4 linked regions of the Homo sapiens genome follow. The protein of the gene in region 1 interacts with the protein of each later gene in a pairwise test. Each region holds a gene or a part of one and is shown in the gene's direction. Other genes may lie near its edges.

Region 1 (7,050 bases):
GCTACATTTATCATAGACAAAATGCTTATACATGTGTGGGTTTGTTTCTGTTCCATTGATTTTTCTCTTTATTCTAGAAGTAGTACAACTTTGATTTATTATTGTAACTTTAAAATACACTTTGATATCTGATGTAGGGCACATATTTTTCCTAGATATAAATTTTCTAAACAATGTTATTGAGGTATAATTTGTGGGCAGTAAACTATACATACTTAAAATGTACAATTTGAAGAGTTTTGATGCATGTATACACACATGAAACCACCACCACAATCAGGATACCTAACACACACACACACAAACACACACACGATACCTAACATTTCCATCACTCTCCAAAATTTCATTGTGTCCTTTTACAATTCATCTTTTCTTCCATTTCTGTCCCCAGATAACCACTGATTTGCTTTCTATTCCCATAGATTAGTTTGAATTTTCTAGAATCTTATATAAATAGAAGCATACAGTAGGCACTCTTTCATGTCTGGCTTCTTCCACTCAGCATAATGGTTTAGAGATTCATTCATGTTTTTGTATGTATCAGCAATTTGTTCCTTTTTTGCAGAGTAGTAGTTCATTATATGACTATACCACATTTTAAAAAATCCTTTCCCTGTTGATGGACATGTGGGTTATTTCCCACTTTTCGCTATTACAAATAAAGTTGCCATGAGAACATTCATGTTTGTCTTTGTATGGAACACACATTGTATTTTCATTCCTCCTGCAGAAATATCTAAGAACAGAATGGCTGGGTCATGGGTAGGCATATGTTTAATTTTTAAAGAAACTGCCAATCTGTTTCCCAAAGTGTCATGTTTTACATTTTCCAAAGTAGGGCATATATTTAAATTTACTGAATTATATTCACAGAAGGACTGCCTCTAATTGTCTGCCCCTATGATTTGGTCAGACCTTTTAGCATTTTTCTTATAAGTTTTAGTGATAGATTACCATTATATTCTAAAATGAGCACATATTTTTAACTAGTTGCAGGGTTTTTTTAATTTGTTTGTTTCGTTTTGTTTTGTTTTTGAGACGGAGCTTTGCTCTTCTTGCCCAGGCTGGAGTGCAATGGCGTGATCTTGGCTCACCGCAACCTCCTGTCTCCCGGGTTCAAGCAATTCTTCCGCCTTAGCCTCCGAGTGGCTGGGATTACAGGCATGTGCCACCACACCCGGCTAATTTTGTATTATTTTTTTTTTAGTGGGGACGGAGTTTCTCCATGTTGGTCAGGCTGGTCTCTAACTCCCAACCTCAGGTGATCCACCCTCTGTTGCCCCCCAAAGTGCTGGGATTACACGCATGAGCCACCACACCTGGCCAACTAGTTGCAGTCTTAAAGACCTAGGTATTGCCACATCATTAAGTAGGTAACAGACTTAAATAATTTCTCCTTGTGAATCAATGTTTTTTATTTTGGTAAAAAAAAAACCCCACATAACATGGAATCTACCTTCTTACAAAATTATTAAGTGTACAGTATGGCATTTTTAACTATATGCACATTATAGTACAGCAGATCTCTAGATTTTTTTCTGTGAATCAGTTTAAATATGCATTTTGAAATAAACAGAAACATAATATTATATACAATTATCTTGGATTTGCTGGATTTTAATTGTGGCTCCTCTACTTATGAGATCTTAAACAAATTACTTGATCTCTCTGGGCCTCAGTCTCCTCATCTGTATAATGAGGATAATAATAATACTTACTTTGTAGGATTGTTGTTGCGATGGAAGGAAGAAAAAGCTGGAGCGTTGTCTGGTATGTAGTAAGCATCAATAAAAGTTACTAGTCAGGCTTGGTGGCATGTGTCTGTAGTCTGAGCTACTCAAGAGGCTAAGGAAGGAGGATATCTTGAGCCAAGGAGTTCAAGGCTCCAGTGAGCTATAATTGCACCACTGCACTCCAGCCTGGGCGACAGAGTAAGAACCTGTCTCTAAAAAATTTTAAAAGGCCAAGCACAGTGGCTGTCTTCTGTAATTCCAGCACTTTGGGAGACTGAGGCGGGAGAATCGCTTGAACTCAAGAGTTCATCAGCCTTACAACATAACAAGACTCCCATCTCTACAAAAAAGTTAACTATTAATGTTTTACCTCCTTTCACAGGAGGAATGAAAATTATAAAGCAGATGCTTTTTATTGAAAACCTGTTTTCAGTATTTTGATTAAAGAAATGTGTTCCATTTATAATTATTGTTATTTAACTACATATAGATTTATTATGTACAACTTAACATTCAAAACTACCTTCCATATTTTGTTTGTTTGTTTCTATACCAAGAAAGGGAAACAGAAAAGAGCTGATTTAATAATGGGTTATTGAAAGATTTAGGGACTTGAATATTTGCAAAATGGTATTATGATATAGAAAGAGTGCTGGATTAGGCGTCAGACAACATGGGTTAAAACTCGTGTTTGGCAAACTACTAATCATGCTTCTAGATCTGTAAAATGCAAATGATTATCCATGAACTTTCCACCTGTCAGGGCAGAAAAGAGGATCAAAATGAGCTAATTAATTTTTGCTAATTTCAGCAGAAACAGACTGACCTCTGTTTTGGCTAGAATCATGGGACATTTAACCTATAATAATGTTTTGCAAGTGCAAATTCCTTAGGGAAATAAACAGCCAGAACTTACTACCAGAAGTTCCTGAGGTCTAATTCCATCTTTTCAAGAAGGCTTTTTGATCTGGATAATTACTTACTTCTTAATTTGTCAAATAAATTTAATTTTTACCATATGGAGCCCTGTTGAGAGCTCACTTATTAAAATCTTTTTCCTTTCCTAGGCTTGTTTACAAATTGATCCTGCTGACAGGATATCATCTAGTGATCTTTTGCATCATGAGTATTTTACTAGAGATGGATTTATTGAAAAGTAAGCATTTTGAGTGAATGTGGGTTTTTTAAAAGCATTTTGTATTGGGAAATTTTACTAGCAGGAAAATTGCTGTATAGGTTACTTTTATATAACAAATATTCAGTTTAACAAAAATTTATTGAGTTATTGTATCAGGTATTGACTAGGAAGACAGCAGACTTAACAAGTGTCACGAATGAAAAGCCTAATAATAGGATGGGCATAGTGGCTCACACCTGTAATCCCAGCACTTTGCGAAGCTGAGGCAGGCAGATTGCTTGAGCCCTGGAGTTCACGACCGGCCTGGGCAACATAGAGAGACCCCTGTCTCTACAAAAAATACAAAAATTAGCAAGGTGTGGTGGCACACGCTTGTAGTCCCAGCTACTCGGGAGGCTCAGGTGGGAGGATTGCTTAAACCCCAGAGGTGGAGGTTGCAGTGAGCTGAGATTGCACCACTGCACTCCAGCCTGGGTGACAGGTTGAGACCCTATCTCAAAAAAAGAAAAAGAAAGTCTAATAATAAAAAGTAATTGCAACTAACATTCGTTACACAGTTACCATGTCCTAGGCAGTGTGCTCTGCTCTTTACATACTACAGTTTCAGTGTCATCATAGACCAGAGATAACATTAAATAAGCAATCAATACTTCTTAGCTTTATTCCTGTTTGGACCTCTGACTCAGAGAATAGTCTGGTTTTTCCTCTTCTGATGACATTCATTTATCATAATTAGCATGCACTTCCCAAATGATTTTTTTTCTACTTATTCTCTGTTGCAGTGCTTGTTGTCTTTTTTTTTTTGAGATGAAGTCTCGCTTTGTTGCCCAGGCTGGAATGCAGTGGCACAATCTCGGCTGACTACAAACCTCCATCTCCCGGGTTCAAGCAATTCTCCTGCCTCAGGCTCCAGAGTAGCTAGGATTAGAGGCACATGCCACCACGCCTGGCTAATTTTTGTATTTTTAGTAGAGATGGGGATTTTGCCATTTTGGCCAGGCTGGTCTCAAACTCCTGACCTCAGGTGATCCACCCGCCTTGGCCTCCCGAAGTGTTGGGATTACAGGCATGAGCCATTGCGCCCGGCTGCAGTGCCTGTTGTTGTATCCTACCCATGAAATTGGAAGTTCCCTGAAGACAGGTGCCATGCTTCTTATGGCCCTTCTGTGCCCCACATTGCCTATGACATGCCCAGCATATAATCTGTATTACAATTTAGATTCATGAATCAGCCATATTTCTAAAAAAACACCATTTTCTATTTGGGCTTTGAAAGAAACAGGAAAAGTTTCTCATTAACTGTAAAACCATTCAGCTTGTCTTTGGACGTGACGTTAGAAAGATGGACATCCATTAAAAATGTGATGGAGCTAAGGTCAGATATGGAAGAGTCCAGGAACTGCTATTGGAGATAGACTAAATAGAAAAAAGCGAAGAGAATCCTTGAGGGTGACTAGAACTTTGCGCATTTCAGGAATTTTACTCTAAAACAAACAATAAGATGATATATTTAAAGTGCCATTGGCAAGGTGCTGCAGCTCATGTCTGTAATCCCAGCATTTTGGGAGGCCAAGGTGGGCAGATCAACTGAGGTCAGGAGTTCAAGACCAGCCTGGTCAACATGGTGAAACCCCATCTCTACTGAAAATGCAAAAACTTAGCTGGGCGTGGGCATGTGCCTGTAGTCCCAACTACTCAGGAGGCTGGGACAGGAGAGTCATTTGAACCCAGGAGGCTGAGGCTGCAGTGAGCTGAGATCACACCACTGCACTCCAGTCTGGGTGACAGAGCCAGACTCCGTCTCAAAAAATAAAAGAATAGGCCGGGCTTGGTGGCTCACACCTGTAATCCCAGCACTTTGGGAGGCCGAGGCGGGCAGATCACGAGGTCAGGAGATCAAGACCATCCTGACTAACGCGGTGAAACCCCGTCTCTACTAAAAATACAAAAAACAAAATTAGTTGGGTGTGGTGGCGGGCCCCTGTAATGCCAGCTACTCAGGAGGTTGAGGCAGGAGAATGGTGTGAACACGGGAGGCAGAGCTTGCAGTGAGTGGAGATCGTGCCACTGCACTCCATCCTGGGTGACAGAGCGAGACTCTGTCTCAAAAAATAATAATAAATAAATAAATATAATAAAAAATAAAATGAAGTGCCATTGATAAAAAGTGGCAGTTATTGGCTGGGCATGGTAGCTGATGCCTGTAATCCCAGCACTTTGGAAGGCCGAAGCAGGCGGATTGCTTGAACGTAGGAGTTCAAGACCAGCCTGGGCAACATGGCAAAACCCTGTCTCTACAAAAAATACAAAAATTATCTGGGTGTGTTGGTGTATACCTGTAGTCCCAGCTACTACGGAGGCTGAGGTAGGGGATTTCTTGAGCCCAGGAGGTCAGGGTTGCAGTGAGCCATGAGTGTGTCACTGCACTGCAGCCTGGGCAACAGAGAGAGACCGTGTCTGAAAAGAAAAGATGCCAGTTATTGAATTAAGAGGTTGCTTCATATCACTTCTACACAGACGAAGTTTATTTTTCTTGGACATTTAGATATTAGGCTTCTATTATTGTGGGGTGAAAGTACCTTGAGTTCAATTTATAGAATCCTCAGAAGAGTGGGCTGGACTAGGGAAGAATTCATTCATGGGCTGATGTTTTAAAACCTTCCCAAACTGATAGCTGTAGCTGCTTCAAGGAGGGGACTTGTGCAGTTCAGGGAAGGGGTGGGAAGGAAACTTTTCAGTATGGACTTTTGAACTTTGAACCACATGAATGGACTTTCTAATCAAAAATAACTTTTAAAAAGAAAGAAATCAAACTAAAACCAAAATAATCTCTCTCCAATATGAAGGTATTCTGTTACATTTCTCTAGAGTAAGATTTTAGAAGTTAGTTAGTTCATTTTTAAAGTTCTATTACTTTAAAGAACCACAGCTGGGTGCAGTGGCTGACGCTTGTAATCCCAGCAACTTTGGGAGGACGAGGCAGGTGGATCACCTGAGATTGGGAGTTGGAGACCAGCCTGACCAACATGGAGAAACCGCGTCTCTACTAAAAATACAAAATTAGCTGGGTGTGGTGGCACATGCCTGTAATCCCAGCTACTCAGGAGGCTGAGGCAGAATCGCTTGAACCCAGGAGGTGAAAGTTGTGGCGAGATGAGATTGTGCCATTGCACTCATGCCTGGGCAACAAGAGCGAAACTCCATCTCAAAAAAAAAAGAAGAACCACAGAAAAGGTCAAAGTGGTCTGAGTCTTCCTTAAAAATAACAGTATCTTTATCAAAATTAAAAGCAATATTTTTCTGAGTAAAGTTTGCATCGCAGAAGGAATCTAATTAGTATAAATCTATTTTGTAAAAGTTTTATATAGTAGGTTCCCATAGCATAATTTTCGAAAGATGTATCTTTAGAAGAAAGCAATTTTTATTAGGTAAATGTTGGGCCATCTCTTGACATGCATTATAGTTAGCATTATTTATGCTGTAGCTGAAATGTACATTAATTGATGAAATGGTTTATTCAAGATAAAATACTCCATCTGCATATATAAAAAGATTACTCGTTGATATTGCTTGTTTTGTCAGATTCATGCCAGAACTGAAAGCTAAATTACTGCAGGAAGCAAAAGTCAATTCATTAATAAAGCCAAAAGAGAGTTCTAAAGAAAATGAACTCAGGAAAGATGAAAGAAAAACAGTTTATACCAATACACTGCTAAGTAGTTCAGTTTTGGGAAAGGTAAGAACTTTGGTTTTTGTTTCAGCCAGTATAATTATATTATAGTTAGACTCTAATGACAAAAATAACTGTTATGATGACTCAGATTTTGGATGTATCTATTCCAGGAAATAGAAAAAGAGAAAAAGCCCAAGGAGATCAAAGTCAGAGTTATTAAAGTCAAAGGAGGAAGAGGAGATATCTCAGAACCAAAAAAGAAAGAGTATGAAGGTGGACTTGGTCAACAGGATGCAAATGAAAATGTTCATCCTATGTCTCCAGATACAAAACTTGTAACCATTGAACCACCAAACCCTATCAATCCCAGCACTAACTGTAATGGCTTGAAAGAAAATCCACATTGCGGAGGTTCTGTGACAATGCCACCCATCAATCTAACTAACAGTAATTTGATGGCTGCAAATCTCAGTTCAAATCTCTTTCACCCCAGTGTGAGGTGA
Region 2 (7,050 bases), on another chromosome or scaffold:
TTTGTGTTTTTTAGTAGAGTCGGGGTATCGCCATGTTGGCCAGGCTGATCTTGAACTTCTGACCTCAGGTGATCCACCCACCTTAGCCTCCCAAAGTGCTGGGATTACAGACGTGAACCACTGCGCCCAGCCCTGCTTGGTGGTTCTTTATCACCCTGATTTTATTTACCATATATACTTGAATTAATAAAATCTATTATCTATTTGAATAGTCTGTAATTCAGAGTTTTCACTAATTTAACCTAGACTTTTCTACAATTAACTGATGTCAAAAGCCATCTTTATTGATACTGTGAAGGAGACAAATAAAATAGAAAGCATGATCCCAGCCTTAGAACCAGTCTGACTTTAACTCAAGGTTACTGATGTTGCTTAAGTGCTGTGGGTCTGGAGCCAATCTGGTTGAACTTTTTCAGCCCCTGACTGGCTCCAGTGTTATGGTAATGAGCTGGTTCTGGAGTGTCAGTTGCTTTAGCTCATTGTGGCTAGTAGATGGTCCAATCATGCCTCTATTTATGAAGACCCCAAGTACTCAGGTTAATGTGGGAAAATCAAAGGCTCTGTCTGGAAAATGTTGCCATTAGCATTGGCCTAGCAAAAGAGAAGGAGAGAAAGAAAAACAAAGGGCCTAAAAAATTTATTTTCTAAATACAAATCTCAAATAAAAGACAGTAATATATTTTGTTTTTACTGAAACTCTTAAATTTTCCTTACTTTAAGTTTATTCTTGGCCTATTTAAGTGACAGTGCCAGATTCAAACATTTTAGGCAGTGTGGCTCCAGAATCTTCTTTTTCATTTTTTATTGTTATTATTTTATTTATTTATTTATTTTTGAAACAGGATCTCACTCTGTCTCCCAGGCTGGAATGCAGTGGCCCGATCTGGGCTCACTGCAACTTCCATCTCTGGGACTCAAGCAATCATCCTGCCTCGGGCCCCTGAGTAGATGGGACCACAGGGGCACACCACCGCGCCCGTCTAATTTTTGTATTTTTTGTAGAGTCGGGGTTTCGCTATGTTGCTCAGGCTGATCTCGAACTCCTGAGCTCACGTGACCCGTGAGCTCACCTTGGCCTCTCAAAGTGTTTGCATTACAGACGTCAGTCAGCCACCATACCCGGCCAGAATCTTCTTTTTAAAAATCGCTACACTGTACTATCCAATAAGTCAGGGCAAAAGGAAGAATGCACTCCAAGGTACAAAGGCAGGAAATTATAGAGTATGTTTAATAAGCAGTTTAGTTTTTAACAGAATATGTAGGAGAATAATAGAAGGGAAGGACAGAAAATTACGTTGGGACTATATCCTGAAGGACCTTGATTGCCAGACTCAGGATGAACTTAAATGTATATCACATTTAGAAATAAAAGATAGAGCTATAAACTAACACTGCATAGTTCATTGTAGTGAAGATAGTTCCCTACAAATAGTTCTTTGTAGTTCCTAAAAAGTCCTCCTGTTTTAGTTTTTCAGCTGTGATCCACTTGTGTCAAATGAATTTTAATAAATGTTTTTTAATAAAGTTGAATAAGTTATTCTAAATATGTTAGACTTCTTAAAAAGCTAGTAGAATCTTCCTTTCCATTGAATTTTGAATGTTTTTTTCTAAAAATTCACAAACTGTTTTTCTCTTTTGATACTTTGAACCATTTAACTAGTTAGTCACAAAATATTTGGGATTCTTTTGTTTATCAAAATACAATATCAACAAACTTGTCATGATTGATTTATTTATTTTTGTTGTCATGATTTATTAATTTGTGTTTACAGATTATTATTACATTTGATATGGCAAAAATATTTTGGCTAAAGTGGTAATTTTATTATTATATTTCTATTTTAATTGAGCTATAGTGCAAATCTATGGCATTTTATTCCAGCATAATTTGGAAGTCCAATTGTACTTTAAGAAGTCTAACTCCTAATATGCTTCAGATATATAAAGTGTTACTAAGAATTATTGTGAATAATTTAACAAAAACAAGTGTACACGTTCCAAGGAGGACCATCCCCTTCGAAGTAGTCACTTTAGGAGACTAATCTATTTACTCTAATGTTGTTGTTATTGCTAAAATTGCTTTTGAAACTTCTGTTTTAGAATCACCTTGAGGCATGTAGCACATTCTTTTGAATATCCTCAAAGAAGAAAATCTTCATATTTTGAAAGTAGACATGATATCTAAATATATCTAGAAATCACTTGGCGACAAATCTGATGTGTAATCAAACCAAATGATACCATAATGATACCATAATGATACCTATTTTCTTGGTGATACATATGAAGGCAATTCCAAATAAAAAGAAAAATCCCAAAATATTTTGAGCATTGATAGCATAATTTACATCAGTGTATAACCTTCCAAATGACTATTTTGAAATATAACATTCAGATGAATTTAGTCATGCTTCATTTGGTATTAATCAACTGCTGACTATGTGCCAGCTGCAGTTATTAAAGACACTAAATCTACAGGTATAGCTTCCCACTGCTCACACTGGCCTACTTCCCACCTAATGAGAACCAGGCCAGAGTTCCTTTCCAAATAACTGGTAGGGATTCAGAATTAATCTGGTTTTTCTGAATCCAGTATCCAATGTACCAAAGGAACCATAACATTCCTTCATAACCTCCACTGTGGGTACCTAGGTGACACGAGAAAGCCACCGACACAGTGCCTGGTTTGTTTTCTCTTTTCCAGCTGGAACTTTGAGCCCTATTCTGCCCTATTCTGAACCTTCATCTCTAGTAGTCAACTTGTGCACAAACCTCAAGAACTGTACCCCACCTTCTATAGGCCAGCGTCCTTCTTCACTTTAAATAGGTCTCCCTGTAACCATGACTTCAACCTTTCTGCCCTGAAGCACTGCTCATGTCTAAAAAATATGTTCCCAAATGATGATACATAATGTATCATACACTTTTTCTAGAGGTAGGGCTTAAGAATCTGCATTTTAAACCAACTCCCCCAAGTGATTATTAAGCACATTAAAACCCGAGAACCACTATACTAGGTGCTCAATAAGTGCTTGTTAGCTTGAGTATGACATTTTAGTAAAGCAGGCTGAATGTTTGAGTTTACTTGGTGCTCCAGGTCTGTGAGTTAGCAAAATACATATATTTGAAGGAGTTTAAAAGGATTTCCAAGGAAGTATAAGAACCAATGGAGTGATCCAGGGAAAGAAGGGAGATATGACAATAAAACATCTTCATGTCTTAAATAAAACAGAAAAGTAAAATACCTCTTTCTGATTATCTTTTTCTTCAGATAATGGAATCTGAAAATATGGATTCTGAAAATATGAAGACAGAAAATATGGAATCTCAAAATGTAGACTTTGAGAGTGTTTCTTCAGTTACAGCTCTGGAAGCCCTCTCTAAGCTACTTAATCCTGAAGAAGAGGATGATTCTGACTATGGACAGGTGGTCATATACTTAACAGTTGAATTAGTTTTGTTCATGGGAAGTTGTGGAACTGTATTTGAATAACCTGTTCCCACCTAGCTGTGGGAACAGAGCTGTGTCATTTGATACATTCACAGGAAGCTACAAGGCTGATTATGCATGACAATGTAACCTGTAGTACATTTCTAGCAAAGATAATTATATTTTTCTAAACCACCTGAACACTGAATAGGAAAATAGTTCTGTAACTGTGGTAGCAATAGCCACATCTCAAAATGTTGTCATTTATATTTATAGCCAAAGAATGCTTGACAACCATTGCAGAGTGGTAGCTAGGATTGTTTAAGCCTAGGCAATATTTCTATAAAACAAATATTTTCAGTTATACAGTATTAATTGGACCACCAAGTACCAGTCCCTTAATTTTTTAATTTGTCTACACATTAACGCAGAACAGAAAGTTTTTGAGCCAAATAATAGGGCAAACTAGTTTCAGCCTACCAAAATTGGCTTCCCAGTAATGCACAAATAAAGTTGTGGAGTCTAATTAGTTGAGTAGCATTTGGGGTCAAGATAGGTAATGCCAGCAAGGCTTGCAGTAGCAAGATGGGCTTCATTTTGGGTAGAAGAGTTCATTGAACTGACCTTTGACCACTCCAAGGTTACTGCCAGTATTCCCAGAACAATTAAAACACTTTTATATAACTCCCTGCTCTCCATTCTCCTATTTCTTAACTATCGGTGAGCCTTGGCTATCAGACTGCCTATGATAGGGCAAACAAAATTTGGGGCAAAAAATCCCATATCATAACAGAATCTGTCAATTTGCATAAAATTATTTTAATGAAGTGTTTTGTTATATGACCAATTTATCATGAATAAATCATCTTTCACAAACGTACATATCAATTTACTCCTCCCAAAATTTATTTTTGCCACAATGTGGAGAAAAAAGCAAGCTATGAACAGGCAGCAAATTCAGTGGCTCAGATTGACACTGAACTGAGCTACCACCCTAAGGAAGAGCTTAGGTGGAATAGGGCAGAATAAATAAGATGTGAAATGGGAATAACATTTGTAGAAGAACTGAGTCAGCTTGGAGCCAGGATCAGGAACCAGGAAGTTTTAGTCAGGGAAAAGTCTTAGTAGAGGCTAAACAAAGAAACATCAGGATGTTAATGACAGCATTAGCTATACACAACAAACAGGATACAGGAGAAAAAGTTAGGAACAATGTATCAATGAAGTTGGGAAGGCAAGCTCATTTTTGCTACCTTAGTTGAGTAGCAGAATAATAATTTTCTGGAGCCTACATCCTAGGAAAGGTAAGGTTATGCCATATAGAAAAAGTATATCAAGTATTTGAGAAACAGTGACCTTGAATATAGTGAAGTGGAACTTGTAACTGGGACAGATTCAAATATAAGGATTTACCCTGGTTACAGAGCCTATTCCATTTGGTGTTTATGGCTGGAGGTGTTTATTTGCATCTAGAGGTGTTTCTAGGAGAAAAGATGAGTGCTTATGAGAATAGACTAACATAATATTACTGAGTTGTACAGTTTATAAAGGAAAATTACTATAATAATGTATGATTCTGTATATCTGGGTTATAAACAATTTTGAGATAATTGGTCATTCAGACACCACAGTACAGATATCATTAGAGGACATACAGTATCAGAACAGTGGGAGAATAATTAATGTTTCTAATGAACTATTACATTTTCCAGGAGAGAAACTGCTTTTCATTTTTTAACATGTATTAATCTTGGGAACTGTGGGATGATTACAAGAGTGATGTGTTTTTGAAAATATGCTCTCTGAAAACAGCAAGAGAACAGTTGCATACACATTGCTTCATTTACACTATCCCTTTTCTATATGACTTGTTAAGAATCTGGGAGATTGAGGAGAGAGTGTGTCTGTCATTTTTCAAAGCCATGAGGGGATCTTAAGGCCTGTGGGAAATAAGGTTCACTGCTCTTCACAGACATTATAACGAGGATGTTCTGTCTTACATATTACAAAGTGGCATGAATTGCAGTGATAAATTGCTCAGATAATTGGCTGTAGATTCATGGTAAAGGCTCAAATGATGTTCTAATAGAAAACAATTGCCAGATGGTTTTTAATGTTTTTATGATCCCATTCCATCTTTTAACTTGAAAATTTTATTTTTAATCATTTATTTTCATTAAATTAATAAATTGAAACTCCCATGTGTTCTGAGCCAATCACTGTCCATGGAAAGTATACCAATTTTTGTCAAGAATGTCCAAGGTTTTACTTCTACTGCTTTTAATTTTCTGTGGAAGGCAGCACTCAACTAAACAAGAGGCCCTCATGTTCTGAGAAATGCTTTACTCTGACTATTAGTGTTCTGATGATTAATAATTTAAGAAAAGTACTACACATTTACATGACATTAGTGATTAAAAAAGAGGGAAAAAAATGTCCCAAATATTATCTTGGGATTTTCACATAAAAATGCCTGTAATGCCTTAACCGCAGACATAGCACTTTTGAAACACCTTTTGGAAAGGAATAGTTACTGTCTCAGACACTGTTGAGAGATTATAGATTAATTTCTGATTTATAACTCTTGGAATAGTTTCACATAATAAAGACCCACGTGAGCTGTTCCATCAGCTTTCAAGAACAGACACTACTCTCCTTGCCCAAACAAGACATTCTAACTTTTGTACATGTCTAAAGTCTTAGGAGATGAGGACAGGGGCCTGAGAAAAGAGAGATAGAGGTGCTAGTTGGCCAGTAGGCAAGGAGATAAGAATTTTTTGACTGCCAGCAGTGGAGTGAGTTGGAGCTGCAGGGTCTGTCATCAGCAAAAAACAATTGGTAAGAAATTGGGATTTTCTTGAAATATCAAAGAATCCCTGAGACGGGCCAATGAGGTGGTGTCGCTATGTGTTATACTTAGTTGAAAAAAATGAAGATTGCTTGTATTGGTGAGTCAGGGCAAGTCCTTTGGGGATGTGTATGCTTGTGCAGAAGATGGAAAAATAAACTTATGAAGTTATGAAGACTGAAGTACATCAGCATGTATTAGAGACTATTAATTTGTGGTTGCTGTTTAAATCCACTAGTTCAGTGTCATGAGGCGGTGGGACAGGGAAGTGTTTCATACCTATAGTGGAAAAAAGTAAAAGCAGTTATCAGGGCTTTTGAATGATTAATCTGAAGTCTGAATACTTAGCTTCTGCTTAGTGTTAGTTTTTATTTCTATAAAACTTTCACATACTCTGTCCTCCATCTGACTACAACCAGACACTGCTAAACCCCAAAAGTGTCAATGCCTTTATACTAATACTTGGTTCTAACCTTCATAGAGATGAATGTGGCTCGTTCCTCTATCCCCAGGGATACATGATTCACTGAGCTGGAACTAGGGTTTTAGCCTGACTAAAGATCAATTCTGCTCTTGAGTCTATTAAACCAAACACTTTTTGAAAGAACAAGGAAAGCATATTCGAAATAGTACTTGACATCTGTCTTTCTGTTTTATAACAATGATGGGTAATTAAAGTGGAAAGCTCCATGAGTTTTTTTATGGAAATCCTATCAAATTTAAAGTATCACTAGTCATATAGGTTATACAAGTATTAATTACAGAATATTGA
Region 3 (7,000 bases), on another chromosome or scaffold:
TAAATGATATCCAGTCTTGTAAGAGTGTGCTAAGTAGACACTGTCATTGATTGTTGGTGAGGGTGTGACTTGGTGCAGGCTTTCTGGCAAGTAGTTTGGTAATATGTATCAGAAAATTTTTTAAAAACATTAGCCAGGCATGGTGGCATGCCTATAGACCCAGCTGCTTGAGAGGCTGAGGCAGAAGGATTGCTTGATGACCCAAGAGTTCAAGGCTATGTCAAATGCACAGCCCCTTAACCCAGCAGTTCCACTGGTAGAAATTAAGCTATAAATATTTCCAAAGGTATGCAAGATAGTTATGCAAAAATATCTATTGTAGCATTGCTTGTGATTTTACAACCCCTGCCAACTGAAATTCTGTAAGAGGAGAACTGCTTACATTACGATACATCCATATAATAGAAAGCTATGTGGCCATTAAACAGAATGAGTTAGCTCTTTTTGTGCTAATGTGGGAAGATCTCCAAGATATATTAAGTGACAAAAGCTAAGTGTAGAATAAAATGTAGGTAATGAACCCAGTTGAGTAGGGATTTTTAAAGGATGTATATGATTTATTCTGATATATGCACAGGGAAGTTTCTAGAGATATAAACAGGAGTTTAATGGTGATTTCCTTTGGGGGAGACTAGGAATAAATGATGGGAGAGATTTTTTTTTTTTACACCTTTCTATAATTTTTTTTTACATGTGCATGTGTTATATCCCACACCCCCTTTTTCAAATAGCTAAAAGCAAAATTCTACAGTGGTGAGATCTAGCAGAGAATCTGTTCACCCAGATGTAGTTTCCAGAATTTACATACTTTTAGTCTACTCATTTATATAGTCAACTTTTCTTTTTGAAATTACGAATACCTAAATCATTTATTTCATGATCTATTTTTGTTTTAAATTACTATGAAATGTTTTAAGATGTATAAAACGATAAATTAATACTTCACTCTAAAAACACAGTCTTTTAAAATTATTAGTGCCTAATCTGGCATTTTTGGCATCTTAGAGGAGGCAGAGTGATGTGATAAGAAAAATCACATAGACTTTAGAGTCATCCAGACCTGGATTCACATCTCAACTTAATAAAAACTAGCTTTTAACCTTGGGAAAGTTACTTAAAATAGCTGAACTTCAGACGATCAAGCCCTACATTTGCAGAGTAATTATAAAGATTAAGTGGGAAAAAAGGTATCAGTCCCTAACATATCATAATTACTCAAGAAACCTTCATTTCTTCTCTTGTCATCTCTCCCTATCCCTCGAAGATGACTTTCAGTCTTTGTCTGGGTTGTCTGGCTCTTTTATATCATACTTAGAAAACTTGGGGCTGGGCGCAGTGGCTCACGCCTGTCATTCCAGCACTTTGGGAGGCCAGGCGGGCAGATCGCTTGAGTTCAGGAATTCGAGACCAGCCTGGACAACGTGGCGAAACCCTGTCTCTGCAAAAAATACAAAAATTAGCCGGATGTGGTAGTAGTGCATGCCTGAAGTCCCAGCTACTCAGGAGGCTGAGATGGGAGGATCACCTGAGCCCAGGAGTTTGAGACTGCAGTGAGCTGTGATCACACCACTGTACTCCAGCCTGGGTGACAAGAGTGAGACCCTGTCTCAAAAAAACAAAAGAAGACTTGGTAATTTAGCAATGTTTGGATGTAGTATCAGAGCAAGGTGACATATGCAGTAATAAATCGTTTGGGTGGTTTTTTTTTTTTTGCTTTAATTACAGAATTTGGGGGAATTACAGAGTATGGGCAGGATCTCTAGCACAGCTCATCTTGTGTGCCATTGTTAGGAATTGTTTCTAATGCTTGACTTACCCCACAGAATATATTTACAGTAGCAACACAGGCAATGCCTTAGTCTTCGTTATAACTTTGTCTTCTGATCGACTCTGTTCAGTAGCAGGGACTTACTATCCTCTTTGGTCTATAGACAGTTTGGAGATCACCAGATAAGAAGCATACCTCACCTTGCAGTTTCATTCAGTTTCATATTCTCAGAAGCTCTTAAAGGGCTAAAATTCTGGCAGCAGCTGGAGAAATCTGCATTGCTCAGGGCCTGAGTGACTGTGCCCCTTTAGTGCTGAAAGACCAGAGGTGCAATTGTCCCGTCCTCACTGCTCAAGCCCCCAGGCCCCTCACTCCCTGACTGTACTCTAGTCTAATGGTCTCCTTTCAGTTCCTTGCAATTGCCAAATGCATTCCTGCCTCGGAGCCTTTGCGTATGCTTTTCCTTGTTCCCACCATTCTGTTCTCCCACCCTCACCACAACCTGTCAAATATCAGTTAAATCTGAGGCTTAAAAGTTCTGTCATTTTGAGCTGGGCATAGTGGTATATACCCATAGACCCAGCTACACAAGAGGCTGAGGTGAGAGGATCACCTGAGCCCAGGAGTTTGAGACTACAGTAGCTATGATGGTGCCACTACACTCCAGCCTGGGTAAAAGAGTGAGACCTCATCTCTTTAAAAAAAAATTCTGCCAGGAGCGGTGGTTCATGCCTATAATCCCAACACTTTAGGAGGCTGAGGCTGGTGGATCACTTGAAGCCAGGAATTCAAGACGAACCTGGGCAAAAAGTGAGACCCCTGTCTCTACAAAAAAAATTAATTTTTTAAAAAAACTAGCTGGGCAGCTGGCGTGGTGGCTCACACCTGTAATCCCAGCACTTTGGGAGGCTGAGGTGGGTGGATCATGCGGTCAGGAGTTCGAGACCAGCCTGGCCAACATAGTGAAACCCCATCTCTACTAAAAATACAAAAAAAAAAAATTAACCAGGTGTAGTGGCGGGCGCCTATAATCCCAGCTACTTGGGAGGCCAAGGCAGGAGAATCGCTCGAAACCAGAAGGTGGAGGTGGCAGTGAGCCGAGATCACACCATTGCACTCCAGCCTGGGCAACAAGAGCAAAACTCTATCTCAAAAAAAAAAAAAAAAACTAGCTGGACATGGTGGCATGTACATACAGTCCCAGCTACTCAGGAGGCTGAAGCAGGATGATAGCTTGATTACCCAAGAGTTCAAGGCTGCAGTGAACTATGATTGTGCCACTGCACTCCAGCCTGGGCAACAGAGCAAGACCCCATCTCGTTTAAAAAAAAATTATATTATTTGAATGGGTATCTTGTTTGTTTTAACTGTAAATATTTACAGTACTTGGTTTTACTTGGGAGATTTGTATAGCTTACAAATCTTGTCCCTATGGATTCAGTTCTCTTACCCACAGACACAGAACCAAAATCAGGAGTTCCACAAGGAGTGGTGGTGAGTCCTGCCTTTGGCAAACACGCACCTGCAAGCTTTGCTCTAGGGATTGAATCCCTTACCCAGTGGGGCCCATAGGCTAGAGGACTTTGTGGAACTTTGGAACTTGTCTTAACAATGGAGGAGGGGATAAAATAAGTTTATCTTTGGGCTGGAATTTGTACTAATTTTTCTTTCTCTTGTAGCACCGAACAAGATTTGTGATGAAATGGAGCCTGGAACAAACTCTTTTCGGGTAGAATTTCCTGATTTTTCCAGCACCATTCTACAGAAACTGAACCAGCAGCGCCAGCAAGGACAATTATGTGACGTCTCCATTGTTGTCCAAGGCCACATTTTCCGGGCACACAAAGCCGTTCTTGCTGCCAGTTCACCCTACTTTTGTGACCAGGTACTCCTGAAAAACAGCAGGAGAATTGTTTTGCCTGATGTGATGAACCCAAGAGTGTTTGAGAACATTCTCCTATCTAGTTATACAGGACGTCTAGTAATGCCCGCTCCAGAAATTGTTAGTTACTTGACAGCGGCAAGCTTCCTCCAGATGTGGCATGTGGTAGACAAATGCACTGAAGTTTTAGAGGGAAACCCTACAGTCCTTTGTCAGAAGCTAAATCATGGCAGTGACCACCAGTCACCAAGCAGCAGTAGTTATAATGGCCTGGTAGAGAGCTTTGAGCTGGGCTCTGGGGGTCATACTGATTTTCCCAAAGCCCAAGAACTGAGAGATGGTGAAAATGAAGAGGAGAGCACCAAAGACGAGCTGTCATCCCAGCTCACCGAGCACGAATACCTGCCCAGCAACTCGTCCACAGAGCATGACCGCCTGAGCACGGAAATGGCAAGCCAGGATGGGGAGGAGGGCGCCAGCGACAGCGCCGAGTTCCACTACACCCGGCCCATGTACAGCAAGCCCAGCATCATGGCTCACAAACGCTGGATCCACGTGAAGCCCGAGCGCTTAGAACAGGCTTGCGAGGGCATGGATGTGCACGCGACCTACGACGAGCACCAGGTCACAGAGTCCATCAACACCGTGCAGACAGAGCACACGGTGCAGCCTTCGGGAGTGGAGGAGGACTTCCACATCGGGGAGAAGAAAGTGGAAGCTGAGTTTGATGAACAGGCTGATGAAAGCAATTATGATGAGCAGGTGGATTTCTATGGCTCTTCCATGGAAGAGTTTTCCGGAGAGAGGTCAGATGGGAATCTAATTGGGCACAGACAGGAGGCTGCCCTCGCAGCAGGTTACAGTGAGAATATTGAAATGGTAACAGGGATTAAAGAAGAAGCTTCCCACTTAGGATTCTCAGCCACTGACAAGCTGTATCCTTGTCAGTGTGGGAAAAGTTTCACTCACAAGAGTCAGAGAGATCGGCACATGAGCATGCACCTCGGTCTTCGGCCTTACGGCTGTGGGGTCTGCGGTAAGAAATTCAAAATGAAGCACCATCTCGTGGGCCACATGAAAATTCACACAGGCATAAAGCCGTATGAGTGTAATATCTGTGCAAAGAGGTTTATGTGGAGGGACAGTTTCCACCGGCATGTGACTTCTTGTACTAAGTCCTACGAAGCTGCAAAGGCTGAGCAGAATACAACTGAGGCTAACTAAAAATAGGATCTGGCCCTTGAGTGGCATGCACAAAAATAAACTATGGTAATTAATGCAAATCTGGGCACAGATGATGCGTGCTACTTGCTATTATGAGAGAAGCTTAAAAAAAAAAAGGAAGATATTTCTGAAAGACCAGCTCTAAGTAGGCCAATTAAAAAAATCTAATTCCTCAAATTTGTGTGTTCCAGTCCTGGCCTGGAATGGGTAATGGGGTGAGTTAACCCACCGCCCAGCTGGCAAGGGAAACCTTCTGACTGGTTGTGATCGAAACAGGTGGACAGAGACACCTGCACTTGGAACTGGACTCCACCCACCAGTTCCATTTTGGGTGGCAGCAGCTTTGGATCACTCATTATTACAAGGTCATGCTGAAATTTTATTTTGCTCTTGCTATAGATACTTAGGTAATGTGGATTTGTTTTGGTAGCTATTTCACTGAAGGAAGTGCTACTTATATAAAAGCTAGAAATAATGTGATTCCTAGGATGAGAAATTGGTTAACAGAGCTCTGTTGTCTGGTTTTAGTCTTTCTAAAGGATATTTTAACTAAAACTATGGAGATGCTAAGAGAGTGACTTTCTAAATATGAAACAGATAATTTACGGTACAAGGCTGACATAGTGCCCTTGTCAGTTTCTGTAAGATGCCACTACTGTCACAAGGTGTTTCAGACTCTTGATAAGGCAGTGTTTTGTATTTTAGTTCTAACATTGAGTTTGGACAATTTTATCTAATTGTAATTCTCTAGGGTGCCAGAGATAGGTATTTCTCATTGGTTTGCTTTCCCAAATCCTGTTTGGTTAATTGTAGCCTCCATACAGTGGGGTCTTCTCTGTGGCTGGTAGACACCAAGCTGCTGTGACTGACCACGGTACCACGGGCTGCCACAGCCCCTGCTCTGTCTTAGATTATGGTGCTTTACAAAGAGAGTGGTCCATGACCACACTTAGTGAGAAGGAGCCACAAGTTGTGGCTGAGAGTTCCCTGTGAACTTGAGTAGTTCATAGAGTGCTAAGGTGACACTCCACCAACCAGAGTGAGAGGGCAGATAGGCAGGATTCTATGAGTGGTTATACTTAAGGGGGACAAAACTGCCCAAGAAGAATCTTGAGAATACACTCTTTCAAGGTGGGGGAGATACTCTTTAGAGGGTACACTGAGCTAATACTACCAGTTCTTTATGAGCACTGGAATGTGTTTGTAAAAGGAGTCCTAAGTTTAGCAAGGTAGTCTACAGAACCATGCTCCCACATTATAGATAAAGCTGCTTAAACTTAAAAGTCCACAAAGCTACGCCGACCAGAAAAAAAAAATTAAAAAAACAAACAAGAAAAGCAACTATTCTGAGACCTTTTCTGCCCATCAGTTAGATGATTTAGGTTAAAAAGAAAGGTAATATTGCACATGCTTTTAAGCTGTGTAACATACCTGAGGTTATCACCAGGGTAGGACAGGGTGCTACTACCATGTCATCTTTTCCACAATCGTACTGGGTTATTTACTTCTAAATAGAAACTTTTTTTTCTTAAAATAAAAATAATTTTTCTTGGATTTGGGGTGAAATTTTATTTGAAAAGTTTGGCTTTGCTGTAATGTAATAGACATTGCTGGCAATGGCCTCTGATTCTCAAGCTCCTAACACCAGGGTGTTTACTTGTTGAACATTGTCTGGAAAGAGGAAAGAAAATACTTATTTACCAGTTAACTCTTGTAAGCAAGATTACAAACAGGGATTTATTCACAACACTGTATCATTCTCGATATATAAAAAGCACTTTGTATTTAAAACTTTATTATAAATATATATATATATTGTTTTTTTTTAAACCTAGAAACTAGATATTACCTCTTGGTTGTTTGCCACATTAATAGCTTCTCTTAGTATTGAAACGTTACTGGTTAGCAGTCTTTTCTCTGTGTACCTGACACACGTATACTGAGGGGATTGTACAATCAAGCCTATTGTCTCCTTTTCTTTCACTCATGGTAGAGGCCAGTGGGTTTTAGGTATGATCCTAGCCATTATATTTGAGGAGAAATTGTTCTATTACTCCTACTAATTTCAGTACTAAGGTGGTGATGCCATTTTGTTCTGCCAAAAACTGATCACCCTCTCCCATGGT
Region 4 (4,444 bases), on another chromosome or scaffold:
CACAAGGATGGTATGGGGGAAACCACCCCCATGATTCAGTTATCTCTACCTGGTCCCACCCTTGACACGTGGGGATTATTACAATTCAAGATGAGATTTGGGTGAGGACACCACCAAACCGTATCACTAACTACGCACTTAGGAGGAGTCACTTAATCTTTCTGAGCCTCAGTCTTCTCATCTCTAAAATGAGGAAAACAATAGTTCGTTCCTTATGGGGTTGTATGAGGTGCAATGCATGTAAGGCACTTAGCACTGGGCCTGGCACATTGTAAGCATTCTATAAATGTTAGTTACTCTTTCCCCTGTTTCCTTCTTGTCCTCAAATTATTGCTACCCAGGCACAGGGAGGAAGATGGGATATCACTAGGGAGAGATAAGGGAGCAAGATGCCCTGGGTGCACACAATCTAGGAAGCTGCAGGATTTTCCCCCAGAAGTATGGCTGGTGTCTACACACACTGAAGGGGCATCTGCCTGTGAAGTAGCTGGTGGTTCTGAGGCCTGTCTGCATCCTCTCCTCTAGTTTAATCCAATTGTCAGTATACCAGTGACCAGGAGCTGCAAGTCCTCCTCTTGTGAACCATTCTTTCACTACTCTGGGATGGATTTGAGGTTGAGAAAGCACAGACTGATGGTTCTCTCTATTCTGATAGATAATTTCCTGAAGGTCAATGCCATCTTCTTAAGTATTGCCTCTAGCTAAAAGTACCATTTGGCTTTTGTTTGTTGGCTTAATTGAATGTTCTTTGGAGATGTGTGTATTTGTACACTGAAAGTAATGGAATTAACCCTACACTTTGAAGATGATCTTCAAGTTAAAATATCTCGCAGCATGAGGAAAGAGGGAAAGGGACAGAGAGCAAGGGTGAGAATGAGAGCAAGACTGAGAGAGTGATATGTATGTCTGAGTAAGGCAATGAGTTAGGAGAGAGAGAAGCCCAGGCAGTCTTCCTTCTTTATTGCTGAGAAGTCACATCCACAGAGACTGGCCCACATCCTAATTCTGGGCCAACAGCTCCATTGTGCAATACCAAAGGTAATTCTAAGTTGTGTTCTTTTGCTTTCCCCCAAGGGATTTTTCTGCAAAGAAGAAAAAGACTTTGATAACTGGTGTAGCCTTGTTCAGAAGGTAAAGCTATATGTTTTTCTTAGTCTGAAAAATGAAGTTACCCAATTTTATTCCTTTTCAAGATTGTTTTTCATAGTAAAAAAAAATCCTACTCTGATACGACTTTACTGCAAGAGAAAGAAACTAAGGCAACAAAGAAACTATCAGGTGTGGGGAATTGTGCATAACTTCGGGGAAACTGAACAAAAATTTTGGTTTGAAATATGCTTAGCATGTCAAGGGAGTGATATTTTTAGTGATGAAACCTAATGTTTTATCTCATTAATAGACAATTATTTTCTAAAGGCAATACTTACATTTTAGAATGCAGCAAAACTGTATTTATGTCACATTTAAAGGTGGAATGAGAATTTTCTGATAAGACTATGCCTTTTATTTTATTTTATTATTTTTTGAGACAAAGGCTCGCTCCGTCACCCAGGCTGGAGTGCAGTGGCGGGATCTGGGTGCACTGCAACCTCCGTCTCCAGGTTCAAGCGATTCTCCTCCCTCAGCCTCCCGAGTAGCTGGGATTACAGGCGCCCACCACCACGCCCAGCTAATTTTTGTATTTTTAGTAGAGACAGGGTTTCACCACATTGGCCAGGCTGGTCTTGAACTGACCACAGGTGATCTGCCCACCTCGGCCTCCCAAAGTGCTGGGATTACAGGCATGAGTCACCGTGCCCAGCTAAGACTATGCCATGTAAATTAGGATATATACCATACATGTTGGACTGCCACTGAAACCATGCCAATATGTAGCAATAGTCTCTTGGGGCAGATTTAATTTCACTAACTGACATTTCTTTGGAGCCAGTGCTTCAGGAACATGTCACCCCTAAAGTGAGCTGGACCCATGCGTCTGGCACAGGCACTATGCCTCATGATGGAGAATAGGCAGTGAGTGCTGGCCTTCATCAGATACTCCCCGCAAAGTCCTTCCTTCCTGGCTAAACAGTATCTAGAATTGAAGATGGCTGAGTCTTCAGATGGTTCAAGTAGAGGATGCATGTATTTTCTAGGCCCCTGTTTTCACCTGGAAACCAGCAGACCACTGTCTCAGGGTTTGGGGTCAAAGATTGCCAATTAGAAATGTTGTGACTCTGAAGTATTTAAAACTGTTTTGTCATCTCCCCAGGAAATTCTAAAGGAGAATTTAAGGATGTTTGAATTAGTTCAGAAACATCCATCACACTGGCCTCCCTTTGTACCTCCAGCCAAGCCAGAAGTGACAACCACTGGGGCAGGTAAGCTGTTGTTCAATGGCTCTCAGCTAGCAGACCCACATATAGCAGTTGTTTTATGAGAAAGAAGAATTGTGGCCCATGCTTTCTGTGGACAGTAAAATTTCTACTCAGCTGGAGTGATAAAAAAATGGCACTTCTGGTTATTTTAATCTTCTGATGAGCTGATATTTACCAATTTCAAAGAATGATAATAGAAGAAAATGAGCTCATTGCAAAAGTTCTATGCAAAATCAAGATGACTAGGATTGCTTTTTCATGGTCTGGTTCAGAATAGCAAATTGAGGCCATCGATAATTCAAAGGTATCTTGAAGGGCTTTCAGAGCCTTGGCCACATCACCGTCGTTAGGTTTATGTAACAAGTCTGGCTATTTTGAGTCTTTATAGATAATTTCTAATACTTGGCAGTAGTTCTAATTGTAAGTCTCCTCCACACAAGTCTTTCTTTAGTACAGCAATTAAAAATGCTTAGTCTTAACTACTGAGTAAAGTATTTACTGACCACTTCAACCCAAGTGTCAAGCTTTTCTTCTTTCTCATTTCCGTATTCTGATAGAATTCATTGACTCTACTGAGCAACTGGAGGAGTTTGATCTGGAGGAAGATTTTGAGATTCTGAGTGTGTAGAATCCTGGGAACTCAACTTGAAGGTCTGTCTTCCATCTGGCACCATAAAAACATGAACTTATTGCATAAAACTTTTCTAGTCAGCAAGTGCCTGATATGCCAATAGCATACAAACTCAATAGCAATCATGACTGAGCCAATCACTGTTTCTCAGAAAAACAAAACAAAACAAAACAAATGACAGTAACCCTTCCCCGGAAAGAAATAGAACAATCATGGAGCCTAGGAGCAGAGAGATGAGGAGGAGTTCATTGCTTCCCAGCTTGTGTTATATGGCTACAGCAAGTCTTCAGCTGCTGCAATGAGGAAATGGGCATCTGGAAGACAAACAGCAACTCTCAGCTTGCTTCAAGAACCAGCAGATAAGAGATGGTTAAGCTGTTCTTCACCCTTTCAGATGTGACCTCTTTTGGACTAAGCAGCAATCTGTTCTCTTGCTCAAATAATAAAGTGACTGAATCAGGGAGGAAAAGGTTCTTGTTAAATTATTTGATTGTGTAGTTGAAGTAATTATAATTTATATCAAAACGTTTGTCAAAGAAACGATGTCAAATATACACTTCTTGATCTCCCTTCTGTTTGCGGGGATCTTACTATTTGATGGGTCACTGTCCCCATTCTTACTGATACTTTTGTCAGATATCACCCTGTCCTTAAATCATGATCACTTAAATCAGGGGTCAGCAAACTTTTTCTGTAAAGGGCCAGACGGGAAATATTTTGGGCTTTGCAGGCCATGCGGCCTCTGTCACATCTACTCAACTCTGCTGTTGACATGCAAAAGCAGCAATAGACAATATGCGTGTAAATGAGTGTGGCTGTAATCCAAGAAAACTTTATTTACAAAAGCAGGTGGAGGGCTGGGTTTGGCCTGCAGGCTGTAGCTTGCCAATCAGTGACTTAAATTGTTGATTTTTGTTTGATAAATTAAAAATAAATTGTGTTTGAAGTATACCCTACTTGGTTGACAGCCATATTTAGAATTATTCATGTGGTGAATTACACATTTTATCTGTGCATCATATACAATTCCAAACCATTTGAGGCTAGCAACATAATAGGTTTTAAAGCATGTATTCATCAAATTAGCTTTGCTAACCACTTTCCTGTGAGGATGAACCTCAAGCCCCAGCAGTACCTTCTCATTTTCCTTTTCTTGCTTCCTTAACTTGCCTGCATTTCACCCCCATCCTTAATCAAGTCCCGAGGAAGGCCAGCAACTGGAAGCTAGCACCAAACCAATCTGCTTGTTTCCTTAGATTCCATGTTTTTCTTTTTCCCCCCGTATATTCCAATGGTTCAAAATTCAAAAGATGTAAAATGATATTCAGTGACTTGTCTCTCTCTCCGATAGGTCAGTTCCCTCCCTTGGAAATTCCCAATGGTATTAATTTCTTGTTTATCCTCTCAGAGGATATATTTTATACATATATAAATATATGCACACACACACACACAT

The links.
Region 2: the proteins of CDKL3 (region 1) and DNAAF6 interact in binary tests that used the Homo sapiens proteins (3 or more experiments, as listed by UniProt).
Region 3: the proteins of CDKL3 (region 1) and ZBTB43 interact in binary tests that used the Homo sapiens proteins (3 or more experiments, as listed by UniProt).
Region 4: the proteins of CDKL3 (region 1) and ATG4A interact in binary tests that used the Homo sapiens proteins (3 or more experiments, as listed by UniProt).

Annotation. Positions count from the first base shown.
Region 1 is NC_000005.10:134,308,134-134,315,183, reverse strand, and holds part of CDKL3 (cyclin-dependent kinase-like 3), read left to right. Parts: intron 1-1,266; exon of another isoform or gene 1,267-1,773; intron 1,774-2,803; coding exon 2,804-2,892; intron 2,893-6,456; coding exon 6,457-6,610; intron 6,611-6,717; coding exon 6,718-7,046; coding exon of another isoform or gene 7,047-7,050.
Region 2 is NC_000023.11:107,209,602-107,216,651, forward strand, and holds part of DNAAF6 (dynein axonemal assembly factor 6), read left to right. Parts: intron 1-3,271; 5' UTR 3,272-3,274; coding exon 3,275-3,427; intron 3,428-7,050. UniProt on the Homo sapiens protein: Plays a role in cytoplasmic pre-assembly of axonemal dynein.
Region 3 is NC_000009.12:126,829,040-126,836,039, forward strand, and holds part of ZBTB43 (zinc finger and BTB domain-containing protein 43), read left to right. Parts: intron 1-3,447; 5' UTR 3,448-3,470; coding exon 3,471-4,874; 3' UTR 4,875-7,000. UniProt on the Homo sapiens protein: May be involved in transcriptional regulation.
Region 4 is NC_000023.11:108,150,728-108,155,171, forward strand, and holds the end of ATG4A (cysteine protease ATG4A), read left to right. Parts: intron 1-1,074; coding exon 1,075-1,131; intron 1,132-2,251; coding exon 2,252-2,360; intron 2,361-2,914; coding exon 2,915-2,985; 3' UTR 2,986-3,944; downstream 3,945-4,444. UniProt on the Homo sapiens protein: Cysteine protease that plays a key role in autophagy by mediating both proteolytic activation and delipidation of ATG8 family proteins.